Homo sapiens: one gene and its partners. The protein of the gene in region 1 interacts with the protein of each later gene in a biochemical or structural test. Each region holds a gene or a part of one and is shown on either strand. Other genes may lie near its edges.

Region 1 (4,936 bases):
CGTGTTGTAACAGTCCTCTTTAAGATAGAATTTTGCTTTGAAGCCATGTGAACCGACCCGTTCAGGTGGATTTTGAACTATGCCTACATCTACCCGTAGTAACTAGTATCATCCAGCCTAGGCAGTGGTGCTGGGGAACCTTTTTTTTGAGACGGAGTTTCGCTCTGTCACCCAAGCGGAGTGCAATGGTATGACTCGGCTCACCGCAACCTCCGCCTCCCTGGCTCAAGCGATTCTCCTGCCTCAGCCTCCCGAGTAGCTGGGGCCTCCCTGGCTCAAGCGATTCTCCTGCCTCAGCCTCCCGAGTGGCTGGGATTACAGGCACCTGCCACCACGCCCAGCTAATTTTGTATTTTTAGTAGAGATGGGGTTTCGCCGTGTTGGTCAGGCTGGTCTCGAACTCCTGACCTCAGGTGATCCACCTGCCTCAGCCTGTCAAAATGCTAGGATTACAGCGGTGAGCCACCCTGCCCAGCCAGGAATCTTGAAATTTAATGTTTCTTAGGTTATTGATTAGAACAACAAAAACAGGAATAATTCATACTTGACCAGAGAAAAATAGATTTAGATTTCATTTCTTCTATGAAACTCTGATTTTTCTCTTATCCTTTATAAATTTTGATCCATTTTCTCTAGCCATGTTGAGGTATAATTGACAAAATTCGTATATATTCAAGGCATATAATGTGATTTGATAAATGTGTACATTGTAAGTTGATTAACACAATCAAATTAACATGTCTTTAACCACACAGTTACCATTTTGTGTGTGTAGGGAAGACTCTTAAGATCTACTCTTTATTAACAATAGTCACTACTGCTGTATATTAGATCCCCAGAATTTACTCATGTTAAAACTGAAAGTTTGTGCCCTTTCACTAACATCTCCCCATCTCTTCTACTCTGCAGTCCCTGGAAACCACCTCTCTGTTTCTATGAGTTCTACTTTTTTAGATTCCACGTATAAATGAAATACAGTATTTGCTTTTCTGTGTCTGGCTTATTTCATATAGCATAAGGTCCTCCACATTCACTCATGTTGGTTGTTGCAGATGATAGGATTTTCATTTTTATGGCCTAATAAAATATTCCATTGTTGTATATATACCATATGCATGCATACATACATACATATATATATATATTTGTTGTTGTTTGTTGTTGGGTTTTTTTGGGGGTTTTTTTTGTTGTTGTTTTTTTTTGAAATGGAGTCTGGCTCTGTCGCCCAGGCTGGAGTGCAGTGGCGCAATCTCGGCTCACTGCAACCTCCGCCTTCCGTGTTCACGCCATTCTCCTGCCTCAGCCTCCCGAGTAGCTGGGACTACAGGCAGCTGCCACCACGCCCAGCTAATTTTTTGTATTTTTAGTAGAGATGGGGTTTCACCATGTTAGCCAGGACGGTCTTGATCTCCTGACCTCGTGATCCACCCGACTCGGCCTCCCAAATTGCTGGGATTACAGGCGTGAGCCACCGTGCCCGGCCTGTTTTTGGTTTTGTTTGTTTGTTTTTGAGGCAGGGTTTTGTTCTTGCCCAGGCTGGAGTACAGTGTCATGATCATGGCTCACTGCAGCCTCAACCTCCTGGGCTCAAGCAATTCTCTCTCTTCAGCTTCCTTAGTAGCTGGGACTACAGGCGTGCAACACCACACCTGGCTAATTTTTTATTTTTGTAGAGACAGGGTCTCGCTATGTTGCCTAGGCTGGTCTCAAACTCCTAGGCTCAAGCAATCGTTCTTCCTCGGCCTCCCAGAGTGCTTGGATTATAGGTGCACTGCACCTGGCCTACAATATTCTCTTTATTCATTCATCTTTTTTGTTTTTGGAGATGGAGTTTTGCTCTTGCTGCCCAGGCTGGAGTGCAATGGCATGATCTCAGCTCACCACAACCTCCCGGGTTCAAGCGATTCTCCTGCCTCAGCCTCCTGAGTAGCTGGGATTACAGGCATGTGCCACCATGCCCAGCTAATTTTGTATTTTTAGTAGAGATGGGGTTTCCCCATGTTGGTCAGGCTAGTCGAACTCTTGACCTCAGGTGATCCGCCCGCCTTGGCCTCCCAAAGTGCCGGGACTACAGGCGTGAGCCATCGGGCCCGGCTCATTCATCTTTTGACAGACTCTTAGGTGATTTTCATATCTGGGCTATTGTTGATTATGTTGCAGTGAACATAGGAGTGCAGATTTCAACATACTGATTTATTTTCCTTTGGTTTTCTTTTTGTTGTTGTTGGCTTTTTGTTTTTTATTGTTTTGTTTTGAGACAGAGTCTCACTCTGTTGTCCAGGCTGGAATGCGGGTGTGATCTCAGCTTGCTGCAACCATCGCCTCCTGGGTTCTGTTGATTCTCCTGCCTTAGCCTCCCAAGTAGCAGGGACTAGAGGCACATGCCACCACACCCAGCTAATTTTTGTATTTTTAGTAGAGACAGGGTTACAGGGTTGGCCGTGCTGGTCTCAAACTCCTGACCTCAAGTGATCCGCCTGCTTCAGCCTCCCAGAGTGCTGGAATTACAGGTGTGAGCCACCACGCCTGGCCCAATTTCCTTTCCTTTGTATATATATCGAGTAGTGGGATTGCTAGATCATATAATAACTCAGTTTTTAATTTTTTGAGGTGGCTGGGCACAGTGGTTCATGCCTGTAATCCCAGCATTTTTGGAGGCCCAGGTGGGCAGGTCCCCTGAGGTCAGGAGTCCGAGACCAGCCTGACCAACATGGCGAAACCCCTTTTCTCTACTAAAAATACAAAATTAGCCGGGCGTGGTGGTGCATGCCTGTAATCCCAACTACTTGGAAGGTTGAGGCAGGAGAATTGCTTGAACCTGGGAAGCGGAGGTTGCAGTGAGCCAAGATCGCACAATTGCACTCCAGCCTGGGCAACAAGAGTGAAACTCTGTCTCAAAAATAATAATAGTAATAATAATTTCTTGAGGAATGTCCACACTATTTTCTGTGATGGCTTTACTCATTTACATTCCCACCAACAGTGTACAGGGTTCCCTTTTCTTCATACCATTGCCTACTTGTTATCTCTTATCTTTTTGATAACAGCCATCCACACAGGTCTAAGGTGATATTTCATTATGGTTTGCGTGTGTGTTTGTGACAGAGTCTTGCTCTGTCACCCAGGCTGGAGTACAGTGGCATGATCTCAGCTCACTGCAACCTCTGCCTCCTGGGTTCAAGCGATTCTCATGCCTCAGCCTCCTGAATAGCTGGGATTACAGGCACATGCCACCACACCCGGCTAATTTTTGTATTTTTAGTAGAGACAGGGTTTTGCCATGTTGGTCAGACTGGTCTCAAACTCCTGGCCTCAAGTGATCTGCCCGTCTCAGCCTCCCAAAGTGTTAGGATGGCAGGCGTGAGCCACTGCACCCAGCCTCATTATGGTTTTGGTTTCTGTTGCTCTGATTAATGAGGTTGAGCACTTTTACTGATACCTGCTGGCCATCTGTATGTCTTCTTTGGAAAAATGTCGATTCCAGTCCTTTGCCCATTTTTTAAATGGATTATTTGGTATTTTGCTAATGATTTTCTTATATATTTTGGATATTAACCCCTTACCAATTGCATGTTTGGAAATATTTTCTCCTCTTCCATAGGTTGCCTTTTCATTTTGTTGATTGTTCCTTTGCTGTGTAGATTTTTTATTTAATATCCCACTTGATGATTTTTTATTTTGCTGCCTGTGCTTTCCAAAAAATCATCCAAGACCAGTGTGAAGGCGCTTTTTTCCCTGTGTTTTCTTCTAGGAGTTTTATGGTTCTGGTTTTACATTTAAGTCTTTAGTCTATTTCAAGTTAATTTTGTATAAGATAAGGGTTTAGTTTCGTTCTCTTGCATGTGGATATCCAGATTTTCCAGCACCATTTATTTAAGACACTAGCCTTTCCCTATTGTGTAGTCTTGGCCCCTTTTTAATGATTAGTTGCCCTTTGATCCGTTTTGAAATACTATTTGTTTAAAAAAAAAAAAAGTAGGTAGCAACTCCCCAATATTCTTATTTTACTCGCCTTGTCCTTTAACTTCCTCCTCAAGTCTTTGGACATTTTTGTTGTTGTTACTTGTTTGTTTGAAATAATATCAGCCTAAATTTGACATTCACACTGAGTATCAGTAAGGGTCATGGTTTTTAAACCTTGTGCTTTCTTATTTTTTTCAAACTAATTTCAGACTTAAATAGAAGTTACAAGAATAGTACAGGGAGTTTCATGTACCCTTCACCCAAATTCCTCAAGTGTTAACATTTTACCACATTTATAGGTTTTTTTCTGATACACTTGAGAGTAAGTTTCAGGTAGATGTCCCTTTACTTCTAAATATTTCAGTGTGTATTTTCTAAAAAACAGGGATATTCCCTTATAGAATCATAGTTTTATTATCAAAATCAGGAAATTTAATAATTATATGTCTCATCTAACTATAGATCTTATTAGTATTTCACTATTCTTCTAATCTCTTTAGAGCAAAATGGAAAAAAATGGTTTTTCTGTTCTGGTGCAGGATCCAGCGGAGGCTCACGTGCTGTATTGGATTATCACATCCTTAATGTTCTTTAATCTGAAATCGTTCCCAAGTCTTGTTATTCATGACCCTGACTGACATTTTTTAAGAGTAAAAACACTAGGGGGGATTTTTTGTTGTTTTTTGTTTCGTTTTGTTTTTTGTTTCGTTTTGTTTTTTGTCTTTTGTTTTTTTTTGAGCCAGGGTCTCACTCTGTCACCCAGGCTGGAGTGCAATGGTGCGATCTCAGTTCACTGGAACCTCCACCTCCCAGGCTCAAGTGATCCTCCCACCTCAGCCTCCCAAGGAGCTGGGACTACAGGCTACAGCCAACATGCCCAGCTAATTTTTGTATTTTTTGTAGAGACAGGATTTCGCCATGTTGCCCAGGCTGGTCTCAAACTCATCCAATCCGCCCACCTTCACCTTGACCT
Region 2 (4,936 bases), on another chromosome or scaffold:
ATACTGGAGAGCACCTATGAGAGGGATGATGGTATTCCCAAGGGGAGCAAGAGGAATCTCAGTAGGAAATGTGCACTTGGGATTTAGTCTTTCAGTAAGTATTTGTTGGGTACCTGCTATGTTCAAAATATCCTGGGTGGAGGTAAGACGTAGTTGCTGTGTTCAAGGAGCTTCTGCCATAGGAAATCTGTGGATGGAGAAGACTGAGAAGAGTTTTGAATGTCAAGGGATAACGTGATGAGGGGAGAGGAGAGGGAGTGTTAGAGGAGAAGTAGTAACATAAGCGGCATCAAATTGGAGGCTAGCCAGCTGCAGAGAAACTCTGCTAGGGCAGGCAGCATGCCTTTGTCATTGCTGTGCCCTAGCATTGCCTAGCATGGTCTTGTAGGTGCCACTTAATATGGAGGTGGATGGACTAATAAATGAAATAAAAAGCACTGGGGGAGGAGGACAAGGATGTTACTTGGCTCATAGCAATCCTTGGCCAACTTTGAGTTGTTTCAGTGGAGTGTTGTGGATGGAGATTTGGACTGAAAGTGGAGAAGGAGGGAGTGACAGCATGTATAGACCACTCCTTTGGTAAGTACAGGAAGGAACCATGGGAGGGAAACCAGACTAGGGTGGTTGGTAGAGTTAGATAAAGCCTTTCCCTGGAGGGCAGTTGGGACCCATGGTTTCCTTTGAGGGACAAGCCTGGAGTTGTCTTAATGAATGGCCACAAGTTTTCAATGAGGACAAGGAATGAAGTCCTCTGGCAGAGGGGGAAGGGAATAAAACTTGGGTTACCATGTGCCAGAGACTTTACCTTTGCAGTTTCATTTAATCCTCACAAGAACCCTGGGAAGAGAGAGTATTAAATGACCTCATTTTTATGGGGCAGGGTTGGATAAGCTCAGAGAGGCAAACATTTGCCCCCTGATGTCACAGCTAGGAAGCACCAAGCTGGATCTGCCCACATCTGCGGGGCCTGGGCCACCTGCCTCTGAGACACTCCAGCAGCATTTAGCAAAAAGTAGCTGGAAGTTGGGATGGAATGGGGAATCCAGAGTTATGGGTTGCAAGGCAGAGTGTAGGAGTTGTGAAGGGTTAATTATGAATCTAGAAGAGAGTGGGAAATCGGTGTTCTGGGCCAGGGAACTGGACATTTGAATCTGCAGATCAGCAGAGGCTGGGTGAGGGGCTTTCAGGGAGGATCTCAGTTCACTCAGGGCTGGAGATCTTCGAAGCACATCCTAATGTTGACGTCTGCCTGTTATGAAGCAGGTGAGAAAACAGCAAAGCCCAGGGCAGAAAGGAAGTGAGACTGAGGTGTTGAAAGCTGATTGAAATTGCTAGTGAAAATGGTGGAGACAGTAGGCAGAAAAAAAGATGACTCAGCCCTTGAAGTCTTCTAGGAAAGTAGGGTAAGTCCAGGAGCAAAACTTAGCATTTAAAAAAGGCCTGCTGTGTTTTCACATTTAATCTTTACAGCTACCTCCCCCCACAAACCCCCACCATAATAGGCTGCCTTGCTTCCTTTTTATGGATTGGGAAGTCTCTGAGGCTCCAAGGAGAAACTGCTTTGCCCAGGTGTACAGCTAGTTAGTAGGCAGCGGACTGAGATGTGTGCTCCGTTCTGTCTGACTGCAGGTGAGCCTTGTGGCAGGAAGGCCGGCACAGAGACTCTGCTCTGCTTCTTTCCAAGCATTTCTCTCATTAAAAAGACAGAGGAACAAGCATTTCGGAACCCGCAAAGAGAGTGCTGATAGACAGTGACTTTCGTTTACCTAGCACATCTGGAGCTCGCGCTGGGTGCCTTCATAGTTGTTAGCTCATTTGGTCTTCACGGCAACCCTGATATTTGCATTTTACAGTTACATGTTCAAAGAGGTTTACTAATTTTGACTGGGGCCTGATAGCTAATAAGTGAGTAAAACCCGAGATTGGAACCCACCTTTGGAAACTGTGTCTGCTTATATTTTCAGATCTACCTGTGAGGTCGGTGGCTGGTTGGTTTACCCTGTTTAACAGATGAGGAAACTGAGGCATAAGAAAGCAAGTGGCTTATCCCAGGTTGTACTAAACAGTGGCTGGGCTCAGACTAGAACTCAGGTTTCCCCAGGGCTAGCCTTGGGCTCCTGATGGCAGAGGAGAAGTGAAATGGTAAGTCAGGGCATCAGGGACAAAGGAGGCTGGCCCTGGGTGGCAGACCTTGGAAGTGATCGTACCTGACTCCCAGGAAGAATGAATGGTAAGGGTAAATACACCCTAACTGGGATTAGAGGCTGTGGGGGCTGTATTGGTGGTGTATGGCAATTTGTGCTGACCTGATTCCCTCCAGACTTATGTGTTGTTGCTGGGGTCAGGGAAACTTGGCCTCCTCCCAGGAGGGTTAGGGTATGGCATTTACAGCTCCTTTGTTTTTTCTTCACACTTATCTCACTGGCTGTGTTTGCAGTTTCAGCTTCCAGCGGCTGGAAGAAGGAACCCTGTTGAGCTGAGACTAGCTCTGGGGTGAGGGGTGCAGAAAGAGACAGAACTTGTGGATCTCGGTTTTCTAGAAGTAAAAATTTTAGCATGTGGGAGCTCAGGAATGTACTTGGAAATGTTTCCAATTTATTTTTATTGCAAAGCAATATCTAATGAAAATGTGGGAGAAGACCCAGGAGCCTGCAAATAATAAATTGCCTGCTTTCATTTTCTGTGTCTCCTTTTAAAAATCTTTGTCCTTACATAAGCAATTTTATACAATTGTAACTGTAATGTTGGTTCACTGTGTATCAACAATACTGTATCCTGCTTTTAAAATTCATCATTATAAGAGTTTCTATTCTTTATAATGATCATTTTAAACATATGTGATACTTTTCTGGTGGATGAACCATGTTTTCCTTACCTATTCCTGTATTCTGGGGGCATTCAGATTGTTTCTAGCATTTTATTATTTATAGACAATGAGACCACAATAATTTTTCTTTAAAAAAGAAATCAGTTCCCTCAGATAAATTCCCAGAAATTCGGATCCTAGATCAAAAAGATTGAAGATCTTTTTTTTTTTTAATTGACTTTTGGAAATTATGACCAAATCCCTTAAAAGCAACTTCGCTGGGTATTGTTTTTTTAACCAGCAAACTGGCAGTGGGGGGCTGGGCATTGTGTGGAGGGTCGCAGATGTGGAAAGCCACCTCCTAAAGCCAGTGAGCAGGGGTCAGGTCATCCTGAGGACGTGGACAAGTGCCTCCCATTTTCCTGCTGCTGTGGTAGGGGTTCAGCTTGCTCAGCGCCTATCCTGTCTCCCTCCCAGACACCTGGGAAAACTGGTTGCTGCATGGGTGGAGCATTTACAGTTCAGTTGCTTCACCCTCACTCGCTTGTTCCATGATAGAGACCCCAGAGAGGAGGTGTGGCTTTGTCATTTATCTTTCAGCCCCATTAAGGTTGGCTCTGAAGATTAATGTCTTTTTTTTTCCCCCTCTTTCCCAGAATTTGTTCCTGTTGAAGAGTGGCTCCTCTTCTAATTTCCAGACTCCTTGAGGTTTTAGGAGTCTGGTAGGTGAAATTTTCTACCTCTAAGGAGAAACAGTACCTGCTCCTTCCTCAAGCGCAAGCCCTCCATTGCTATGGATACCGAATCCACTTATTCTGGATATTCTTACTATTCAAGTCATTCGAAAAAATCTCACAGACAAGGGTATGTAAGTTGTTCATTATTACACTTTTCCTTTTGGGGAAACCTACAGGTTGGTGGGGTTCTCTACACTCACTTTTCAGTGACTCAGCGCTGGACATTTGGTCGGTTGGTGCATGAGAAGCTGAGCTTTAAGAGCATTTAACATTCTTGGGAGTAACTACGTCACCAGTTTACATTTTATAGCCACCATTAGAGTTGATGACTTTAGTTTCTCACAATTGGTTTTAAATTAAAGTTTCTTCCTGCAGTGGAAATGTTTTTCATTTCTAGGTATTTCTTTTTTTTTTTTTGAGACGGAGTCTCGTTCTGTCACCCAGGCTGGAATGCAGTGGTGCCATCTCGGCTCACTGCAAGCTCCGCCTTGTGGGTTCACGCCACTCTCCTGCCTCAGCCTCCCGAGTAGCTGAGACTACAGGCGCCCACCACCACGCCTGGCTAATTTTTGTATTTTTAGTAGAGACGGGGTTTCACCTTGTTGGCCAGGATGGTCTCGATCTGACCTTGTGATCCGCCCGCCTCGGTTTCTAGGTATTTCTTATAGGTATCGGCTCTCCTGAAAGCTTTATGAAGAATGTAAATGGAAGATTTAAAAAGTGTTCATTGCTTGTTGCTTTTCACCTGAAGTTGTTGACTCATTGTCCATTATGCCTTTGTCATGAGGCTTATTTAGTGAACTGGTAGGATTGTCCTGGCACCTTATTCTTTTTGACTAATCTTCAGGTGAACAAGTTTGGGTTTTGAAAACACTGTCCTGAGTGATATTGGTCAAACTTCCCCTTCTCTGCAAAATTAGCAGGTGTGCACTGGTATTCTTAGGGCCTGCTGTGTTACTGACCTGTAGAATGTTTGTTAAGTAGAAGAGCAAATGAATGAATAAAGAAATCAGTGAACAGATAGGTGGCACTGTACCAGTTAGAATTGTACTTGGTGAAATTGCAGTGCTGCTGTTTACTTAGCCTTGTCATCTGTAAAATGGGTACAGCAGTCCTCTCCTACAGGGCTGTTGAGAGGATTAAATGAGATTATGCATGTGAAGCATGTAACACAGTACAGGCTGGAGGTCAGTCAACAGTGGCTAAAGTAATGCTGTAATGGCCTTGGCATTTCAGCACTATGTTCCAAGGTATCAACTGGCCCCAGCCCAAATGCCCAGCTCTGCACTGGCTTGGGAATAGTGATTGTAGTGGTTTTTCCCTGACTGCGCTCTTCCCCATACAAGCAGCCGAATGCAGAGTGAGATTTTGTTCTGTAAAACAGCAGTGAGCT
Region 3 (4,936 bases), on another chromosome or scaffold:
GTACTGTAATGTGTAGGGTAACCAACCATCCCAGTTTGCTTGGGATTTTCTCAATTTTAGCAAAGCCCCACATCCCTGGAAACTGTTCAGTAGTCTCAGGATGGTTTGGTTACTCTACCAATGGGCCATACCAAAGACTTCCCAGTACTTTCATTTCCTCATCTTTAAAAAGGCGGTAATAATAATGACCTATTTCACAGGGTTGTGAAGTGCTTGCCTGGCCCACAGCAGGTGCCCACATAAGTATTTACTATTATTGGCATCTTCTATGTGTGCCGTGACAAGAGAAATCTTGGGAAGCACTGTTCTAAGAGTTAGTCATGCAGGTGATACACTAGCACCATAGAGGCATTGTTGTAAACAAGGTGTGAATTGTCCAACATTCAGAGGTTAGTAGAGGAGAAGTCAAAATTGATAAACTACTATGAAATGGACAAGTACAGTCATGACATTATGAATCGCAGGGAGAGGGTGGGCGTGGAATAGGATCATAGAAAGCTGTTTCAGGAAACAGATCAACCCCCTGATTTATGAATGAGGAATTTGATCTAGGAAACAGGCCCAGAGAGGGTCAATGACTTGTCCAAAGCCACAAGTCAAGTTAGTGCAGTGCTGAGAATAGAACCTGTGTCTTTGAAATACGAAACCACTGTCTGTTCCCTATGCTATAATGTACAAGCAACAGAGAATGGGGGGGATTTTAGTAAGTCTTCCTGGCGATGGTGGTTTTAATAATTGGCAACAAAGGCTACAACTGATGCCAATCTATCTCTGGCTAGGGCCCTAGGACTGCCCTCCAGCCTGGGTTCATATGACTTGTTTCTCTGGACAGGTCTGCTCATGTCTGCTCTCACGGTTTTCATCCTGATTCTATACTTTGTGATTGACAACTTTGTGATAAATCGCAGACCATGGCTCCCTGAGTGTACTCCCATCTACATCCAGTACTTTGTCAAGTTCTTCATCATCGGCATCACTGTACTGGTGGTGGCTGTGCCAGAGGGGCTGCCTCTGGCTGTCACCATCTCACTGGCCTACTCTGTGAAGGTGAGACTAGAACAATCCTATCTCTTCCTTTAGGATAGAGATGGGAGAGAAGGGTACCATGTAACCTTTAGTGAAAAGATAAGCCATTCTATCATCTATAAACTTTGGCTGGTGCCTCACAAGAGCAGAAGTCCCTGGTATTATGGAAGGACCATCTCTGTCAGATGCATCAATGTTGAAATGACCCAGCAGAATCTTAAGAGAATGACAAAAATGGTATCTTGGATTTTTTTTTTTTTTTAAGACAGAGTCTCATTCTGTCACCCAGGCTGGAATGCAATGATGCAACCTCCGCCTCCCGGGTTCAAGTGATTCTCGTGCCTCAGCCTCCCAAGTAGCTGGGATTACAGGTGTGCACCACCATGCCCAGTTACTTTTTGTATCTTTTACAGAGACAGGGTTTCACCATGTTGGCCAGGCTGGTCTTGAACTTCTGACCTCAGGTGATCTGCCCGTCTCAGCCTCCCGAAGTACTGAAATTACAGGCATGAATCACTGCACCCAGTCAGTATCTTGGATTTTTGTGTGGGACTGGAAGATGAAATGTGGAGAGATGTTGGCTAGGAAATGGCCTTTGACCTAGATTTAGGAGAGTCCAGTTAGTCCCCCTCTCAAGTCTTTTCTCTTCTCCTTTGTAGAAAATGATGAAAGACAATAACCTAGTACGGCACTTGGATGCTTGTGAGACCATGGGCAACGCCACCGCCATCTGCTCTGATAAGACAGGCACGTTGACCATGAACCGCATGACTGTGGTACAAGCTTATATTGGGGGCATCCATTACCGTCAAATCCCAAGCCCTGATGTCTTCCTGCCCAAAGTCCTGGACCTCATTGTCAATGGCATTTCTATCAACAGTGCTTATACCTCCAAGATTCTGGTAAGCATTTCCTTTGCGTAGACACTTAGAGTGGGTGGTTGGAAGGGAACATCCATTTTCTCTGAAATGAACCCCCTTATTGTTTACACTGCCTAAATTGCCATCCCACATCCCATTTCTCACGCTGGAGTGAACATGTTTGGGTGAGACTACAGAAAAATCCCTGGGAGTCAATGGAGGGTTGGAGGTAAGGGCCTGTAAGAATCTATGGCCAGGAAATACCCTCCCAATTAGCATGTAAAAGCAATGTCTCTAAGGAGGGAAAGTAGAAAGTAACCCAAAGTAGAATTGGGCTTATCAGAAGTAAATTACTCACTTTCTAGAAACAAGCATAGTGTATTAGAATAAGACCCACACAAGGCGAGACACCAGCACTACCACTAGAGCAAACTACAAAATCCCTAAGCCCTGGATGGCACAAGGATCACGGTTACCACTGACCCCTCTCTGCCTACCCTTGAAAAACAACAGGCTAGGCATAGTGGCTCACTTCTGTAATCCCAGCACTTTGGGAAGCCAAAATGGTAAGATCGCTTGAGCCCAGGAGTTCGAGACCAGCCTGAGCAATATTGTGAGACCTCATCTCTACAAAAATAAACAAAATTAGCCAGGCATGGTTGCGCACCTGTAGTCCCAGCTACTCCAGAAGCTGAGGTGGGAGGATCACTTGAGCCTAAGAGGTCAAGTCTGCAGTGAGCTGAGATCACACCACTGCAGTCAAGCCTGGGCAACAGAGCAAGGTGCTATGTCAAAAAGAAAAAGAAAAAAGATGCCAGGTGCTGTGGCTCATGCCTGTAATCCCAACATTTTGGGAGGTTGAGGTGGGCAGATCACCTGAGGTCAGGAGTTCAAGACCAGCCTGGCCAACATGGTGAAACCCGGTCTCTACTAAAAATACAAAAATTAGCTAGGCATGGTGGCAGGTACCTGTAGTCCCTGCTACTCAGGAGGCTGAGGCAGAAGAATCACTTGAACCTGGGAGGTGGAGGTTGCAGTGAGCCAAGGTCGTGCCACTGCACTCCAGGCTGGGCAACAGAGCGAGACTCCATCTCCAAAAAAGAAAAAAAAAAATGTTATTTCCCCTATGAGCTCCAGGTATATAATGTGAAGGCTTTGTAAATGAGTTCTTTCTCCCTAAGTTCTCTGCCTTGTCAAGGCATCTTACTCAATAGTGCTGTGTATATTTCTTCTCCCAGCCTCCAGAGAAGGAGGGAGGCCTGCCTCGGCAGGTGGGCAACAAGACCGAGTGTGCTCTGCTAGGCTTTGTCACAGATCTGAAGCAGGATTATCAGGCTGTGCGTAATGAAGTGCCCGAGGAGAAGCTCTACAAGGTGTACACCTTTAACTCAGTGCGCAAGTCAATGAGCACCGTCATCAGGAATCCCAACGGTGGCTTCCGTATGTACAGCAAGGGCGCCTCTGAGATCATCTTGCGCAAGTGAGCACCCCCGACCACTCTGCTTCCCTTCAAGATCCTCTCCTCAGGAAGGCATGGGTGCACACCCCACACTGAACCCATGTGAATGAGGGAGCCCTCCAGCCAGGTGGTGACATAATAACTAATATCCAAGCGTCTACTCAGGCCACGCATGTTTTTTAAGTGCTTAAGGTGGCTTGTTGTATTTAATCCTCACAACTCAGTAAGGTGGGTACTATGATTATCCCTGTTTTACAGATGAGAAAACAGAGATATAAGGAAGTTAAGTATCTCACTCAAGGTGATACAGCTAATAGTGGCACAGCCAGGATTCAGACCTGGACGATCCTAAGTTTCCATTTCCTAATCTGAAAACAGAGATAGCCATACTCAGCTCCTAAAAGTACTACCCCCTCACTGTAACTAAATGATTCAATGTATGTAAAATGCCTTATACATAACAAGTACTAGAAACGTTTGTTCTGTGTTCTCTTTTCCTTCTCTTTCCTTCCCATTCCCATTTCTGATTACAGGGAATTTACATAACTTTAAAAGTGACTATTCGGCCAGGCGCAGTGGCTCACGCCTGTAATCCCAGCACTTTGGGAGGCCGAGGCAGGCAGAACACGAGGTCAGGAGTTCGAAACCAGCCCGACCAACATGGTGAAACCCTGTCTCTACTAAAAAAAAATACAAAAATTAGCCAGGCATGGTGGTGCGTGCCTGTAATCCCAGCTACTCAGGAGGCTGAGGCAGGAGAATCGCTTGAACCCAGAAGGCAGAGGTTGCAGTGAGCTGAGATCGCACCACTGCACTCCAGCCTGGGTGACAGAGTGAGACTCCATTACAAAAAAAAAAAAGTGACTATTAATAAATTACCCATAGTTCATCAAAAGTTGGCACTATACCTAAGTAGGGCTGAATTAACCAGTGCTCCAACATGGCTTTAGCCACCTTCTTTTAATCAGCACATTCTTGTATAGGAAACCTCCCCCAAACCACCAGCACCACACAGTGAGCACTATTCTAAATACTCGGATTGAAAAAGTCTCTCTGCCTTCAAGAAGTTCAAAAGAGCAGGTGATTCACAAATGACTTGCATTGCATTCACATATGGGTAAGAACAGATGACATGGGAGAATCCCACTCTCTATATATCTAGACCTTAACTCCATCCACAGCCCACCTACCTTGGAAAGAGGGACTCAGCTGGGTGATGAATGAAGGAAATGTTTGGCCACACTTGGAGCAATGTCTTTAGGAATAATACAGAGTTGCCAAAATACCTGTCAATGATTGTAGAAACGTATTGAGTGGGAAGGGAGACACCGCGTTCTTACTGTGCGCCTCCCCAGGTGTAATCGAATCCTGGACCGGAAAGGGGAAGCAGTGCCATTCAAGAATAAAGACAGAGATGATATGGTACGCACTGTCATCGAGCCCATGGCCTGTGATGGACTCCGGACTATCTGCATAGCTTACCGGGACTTCGATGACACAGAGCCCTCTTGGGACAATGAGAATGAGATCCTCACCGAACTGACCTGTATCGCGGTGGTGGGCATTGAGGACCCTGTGCGCCCAGAGGTGA
Region 4 (3,837 bases), on another chromosome or scaffold:
GAAGAGGAGGAAGAGGAGGGAAGGTTTTACTATAGTGAAGATGACCATGGTGATGAGTGTTCCTACACGGATCTGCTGCCTCAGGATGAGGGCGGTGGCGGCTACAGTTCAGTCCGCTACAGTGACTGTTGTGAACGTGTGGTGATAAATGTGTCAGGCCTACGCTTTGAGACCCAAATGAAAACTCTGGCCCAGTTTCCAGAGACTTTGTTGGGAGACCCTGAAAAGAGGACTCAGTACTTTGACCCTTTGCGCAATGAGTATTTTTTTGACAGGAACCGCCCCAGCTTTGATGCCATCTTGTATTATTATCAATCAGGAGGCCGCCTGAAGAGGCCAGTCAATGTCCCCTTTGATATCTTCACTGAGGAGGTGAAGTTCTATCAGTTGGGGGAGGAGGCCCTGTTGAAGTTTCGGGAGGACGAGGGCTTTGTGAGAGAAGAGGAAGACAGGGCCCTCCCCGAGAATGAATTTAAAAAGCAGATTTGGCTCCTCTTTGAATATCCAGAGAGCTCCAGTCCTGCAAGGGGCATAGCCATTGTGTCCGTCCTGGTCATCTTAATCTCCATTGTCATCTTTTGCCTGGAAACCTTGCCTGAGTTTAGGGACGACAGGGATCTCGTCATGGCACTGAGTGCTGGCGGGCATGGTGGGTTGTTGAATGATACTTCAGCACCCCATCTGGAGAACTCAGGGCACACAATATTCAATGACCCCTTCTTCATCGTGGAAACAGTCTGTATTGTATGGTTTTCCTTTGAGTTTGTGGTTCGCTGCTTTGCTTGTCCCAGCCAAGCACTCTTCTTCAAAAACATCATGAACATCATTGACATTGTCTCCATTTTGCCTTACTTCATCACACTGGGCACTGACCTGGCCCAGCAACAGGGGGGTGGCAATGGTCAGCAGCAGCAGGCCATGTCCTTTGCCATCCTCAGAATCATTCGTCTGGTCCGAGTATTCCGGATCTTCAAACTCTCCAGGCACTCCAAAGGCCTGCAGATCCTGGGCCACACCCTCAGAGCCAGCATGCGGGAACTGGGCCTTCTGATCTTCTTCCTCTTCATTGGGGTCATCCTCTTTTCTAGTGCTGTGTATTTTGCAGAGGCGGATGAACCTACTACCCATTTCCAAAGCATCCCAGATGCATTTTGGTGGGCTGTGGTGACCATGACAACTGTGGGCTATGGGGACATGAAGCCCATCACTGTAGGGGGCAAGATTGTCGGGTCCCTGTGTGCCATTGCGGGTGTCTTAACCATTGCTTTGCCAGTGCCAGTGATTGTCTCTAACTTTAACTATTTCTACCACAGAGAGACTGAAAATGAGGAACAGACACAGCTAACGCAGAATGCAGTCAGTTGTCCATACCTCCCCTCTAATTTGCTCAAGAAATTTCGGAGCTCTACTTCTTCTTCCCTGGGGGACAAGTCAGAGTATCTAGAGATGGAAGAAGGAGTTAAGGAATCTCTGTGTGCAAAGGAGGAGAAGTGTCAGGGAAAGGGGGATGACAGTGAGACAGATAAAAACAACTGTTCTAATGCAAAGGCTGTGGAGACTGATGTGTGAATCTTTTTCCACCTGCCACTGCTCCCCCCTCAGCATCTCCAAATATATTTATGCATAGAGAGTGCAGTTATGAAAATGAAATATGCAAATGATCCAATGCATACAGTAGTACACTATTTAATGGTTATACATGGCATAATTGTTACTAAACTTGTATTACATATCAAATAAATGATACATCTTGGAGAAGAGGGAGGAATAGGAGCAAATCTATCTTTATATTTTTATTAGAATGCAAGAATTTTGCACATTAACTGGAAAAGATGTTAACAGTAAAGATGGAGAGAGAGAGTGTGTGCGTGTGTGTGTATATGTGTGTGTGTGTGAAGTAAATTGTCAATGTTAGTAATTGTGCAGTGAAGGGAAAAGTTGGCATTTTGAAGTATTTACTATGTAAGAACTAATGAATCTGAGCAGTCATTTATCAGTGCTTTAACAGCATATCGTATGTCTTTGGATTCTGTAGTTGTTTTTTAAAAATTGTAAGAAATACTGTGTAGAGAAAAAAGAAAGTAAATTATTTAATAGACTATAGGTCACAATTTTATCTTGGATTTAATTAAAATTTATTTTTAACTGGAAATTAACTTTTAAAAAGGCTGCAAGGGCCTTTAGAAATTGATTATATTTTGTTATTAATTTTGGGAAGACTTAACAGCAAATGTCTAACATTATAGAATAAGTGAAATTGGAGAATATGTAATAAGTTTTGTTTGCAGGTAACAGGACTGGATTTTTTTTTCTTTGCACTACTTTATATGCTGGAGATTGAGAGAGACTTCAAACTGTGAATGTTTACTAATGTAACAGTTCAATGACAATCATTGGAAGAATGATTTCTTTAGTCTTATTTTATTGTTTTCTTTTCATTGTGTGAGACTAATGATCATGCAGATAACATCACAGGATTCTCTCCTCTTTTAAAATCTAAATAACTGATTGACAAAGGAATTATGAAGTAAAATTTAGCAACTGAATCTTTTGAAATTGGTCTGTTAGAATGATGCTTCTGAAATCATACTATTTTATATATTCTTCTGCCTTTTAACTCCAGAATAATTTAACCAAAGTTAATGCATGCACTGAAAGAATTCTTGAAGAAGATGCCAAGCAGCTACAGTGATTATGGCTTAAAATTTTTCTATTAAATGTGAAACATAAACGCTAGATTTATTAAGTTTATTTTTTTGTGCAGTTATATAAGAACAGAATTTGGGGATTAACCTCAGATTTTAACATTATATTTGCTAAAATGGACATAAGGAAGAATTGTGTCAAACATTTGGTTTCAACATCACCATCATTATTATCTTTATTAAAGGAATTTATGACACATATAACTGCATTTAAGTCATGACAAAGCATTCTAGAATGTGAGATAACAACTAGCGATCAGCCTTGCACTATGAAATCATGAGGTATAGGTTAGAAAACTCAGAATGCATAAGAGGCCTTATTCTACAATGTTTATTTAACTTCTGTTCTTTATAAAATGATTGTCTTGAGCTCTGGTTGGGGGCGGGGGAACAAAACAAAACAAACAACACTGCATACACTATTTCGGCACATAGTGAACTCTGGTAACTGTGAGCTACAAACAAACAAACTGACCTAGAATAGCCTTTCTCAAGCTTTTTAAAATCCAGGCCATCATTTCATAATTACATAAATCCTACCTCTCCTTTAATGGTATTTGAAATTCAAAGTAAATTCAACATTAGGCTTAAAAGTAAAACTGCACCCCCTCTCCACCCTTTCCCCACCATTTGTAGAGAAATACTTTTCTAGAACACCTTTTAGAGAATGAAAACAGCAAGCAGGGCCTTTTATTGAATGTGAAGAACAAAGATCAATAGAAGACAACAGAGAATGATAAAACAAGAAAATGTCATCTTACAATAAGATTTCAAAGATAATGTTTTAATACATTTTAGATTTGGGGCAAAAATGTAACAAGCATTAGAGAAGGGGTAAGGCTATTTGGACAGGCTGTAAGTCATTTGGAAATGTCACTTAACATTTCTGCACCCAAATTTCGTGATTGGTTAAAAAGAGGGCAAATGAAGCACATTACGTTACAGAGTTATGCAAAACAAATGAGAACATGCGAAAACTCTGAAATGTTGACTTCCATACAAATGCCTGATGTTATGTCTAAATTGTTTAATCTTCCTCTGGGAGAAAAAGCGATTTAGAATGCACAAGCATACATCTACTTTATTAGGATATTGTAAAAATTATGGGTAATTGCTTTAACTCTGCAGTCCT

What was found. Proteins that work in one complex are often made in the same cells at the same time.
Region 2: the proteins of DLG1 (region 1) and VANGL1 interact in a test that uses a peptide from one of them, tested with the Homo sapiens proteins (2 studies listed by IntAct, with this or other methods).
Region 3: the proteins of DLG1 (region 1) and ATP2B4 form a complex in vitro, tested with the Homo sapiens proteins (2 studies listed by BioGRID and IntAct, with this or other methods).
Region 4: the proteins of DLG1 (region 1) and KCNA4 interact in a biophysical measurement, tested with the Homo sapiens proteins (2 studies listed by IntAct, with this or other methods).

What each region holds. Positions count from the first base shown.
Region 1 is NC_000003.12:197,046,633-197,051,568, reverse strand, and holds part of DLG1 (disks large homolog 1), read left to right. Parts: intron 1-4,936. UniProt on the Homo sapiens protein: Essential multidomain scaffolding protein required for normal development. Recruits channels, receptors and signaling molecules to discrete plasma membrane domains in polarized cells.
Region 2 is NC_000001.11:115,647,815-115,652,750, forward strand, and holds part of VANGL1 (vang-like protein 1), read left to right. Parts: intron 1-3,462; 5' UTR 3,463-3,599; coding exon 3,600-3,670; intron 3,671-4,936.
Region 3 is NC_000001.11:203,706,177-203,711,112, forward strand, and holds part of ATP2B4 (plasma membrane calcium-transporting ATPase 4), read left to right. Parts: intron 1-832; coding exon 833-1,047; intron 1,048-1,685; coding exon 1,686-1,928; intron 1,929-3,124; coding exon 3,125-3,366; intron 3,367-4,700; coding exon 4,701-4,932; intron 4,933-4,936. UniProt on the Homo sapiens protein: Calcium/calmodulin-regulated and magnesium-dependent enzyme that catalyzes the hydrolysis of ATP coupled with the transport of calcium out of the cell. By regulating sperm cell calcium homeostasis, may play a role in sperm motility.
Region 4 is NC_000011.10:30,008,449-30,012,285, reverse strand, and holds the end of KCNA4 (potassium voltage-gated channel subfamily A member 4), read left to right. Parts: coding exon 1-1,569; 3' UTR 1,570-2,556; downstream 2,557-3,837. UniProt on the Homo sapiens protein: Voltage-gated potassium channel that mediates transmembrane potassium transport in excitable membranes. Forms tetrameric potassium-selective channels through which potassium ions pass in accordance with their electrochemical gradient.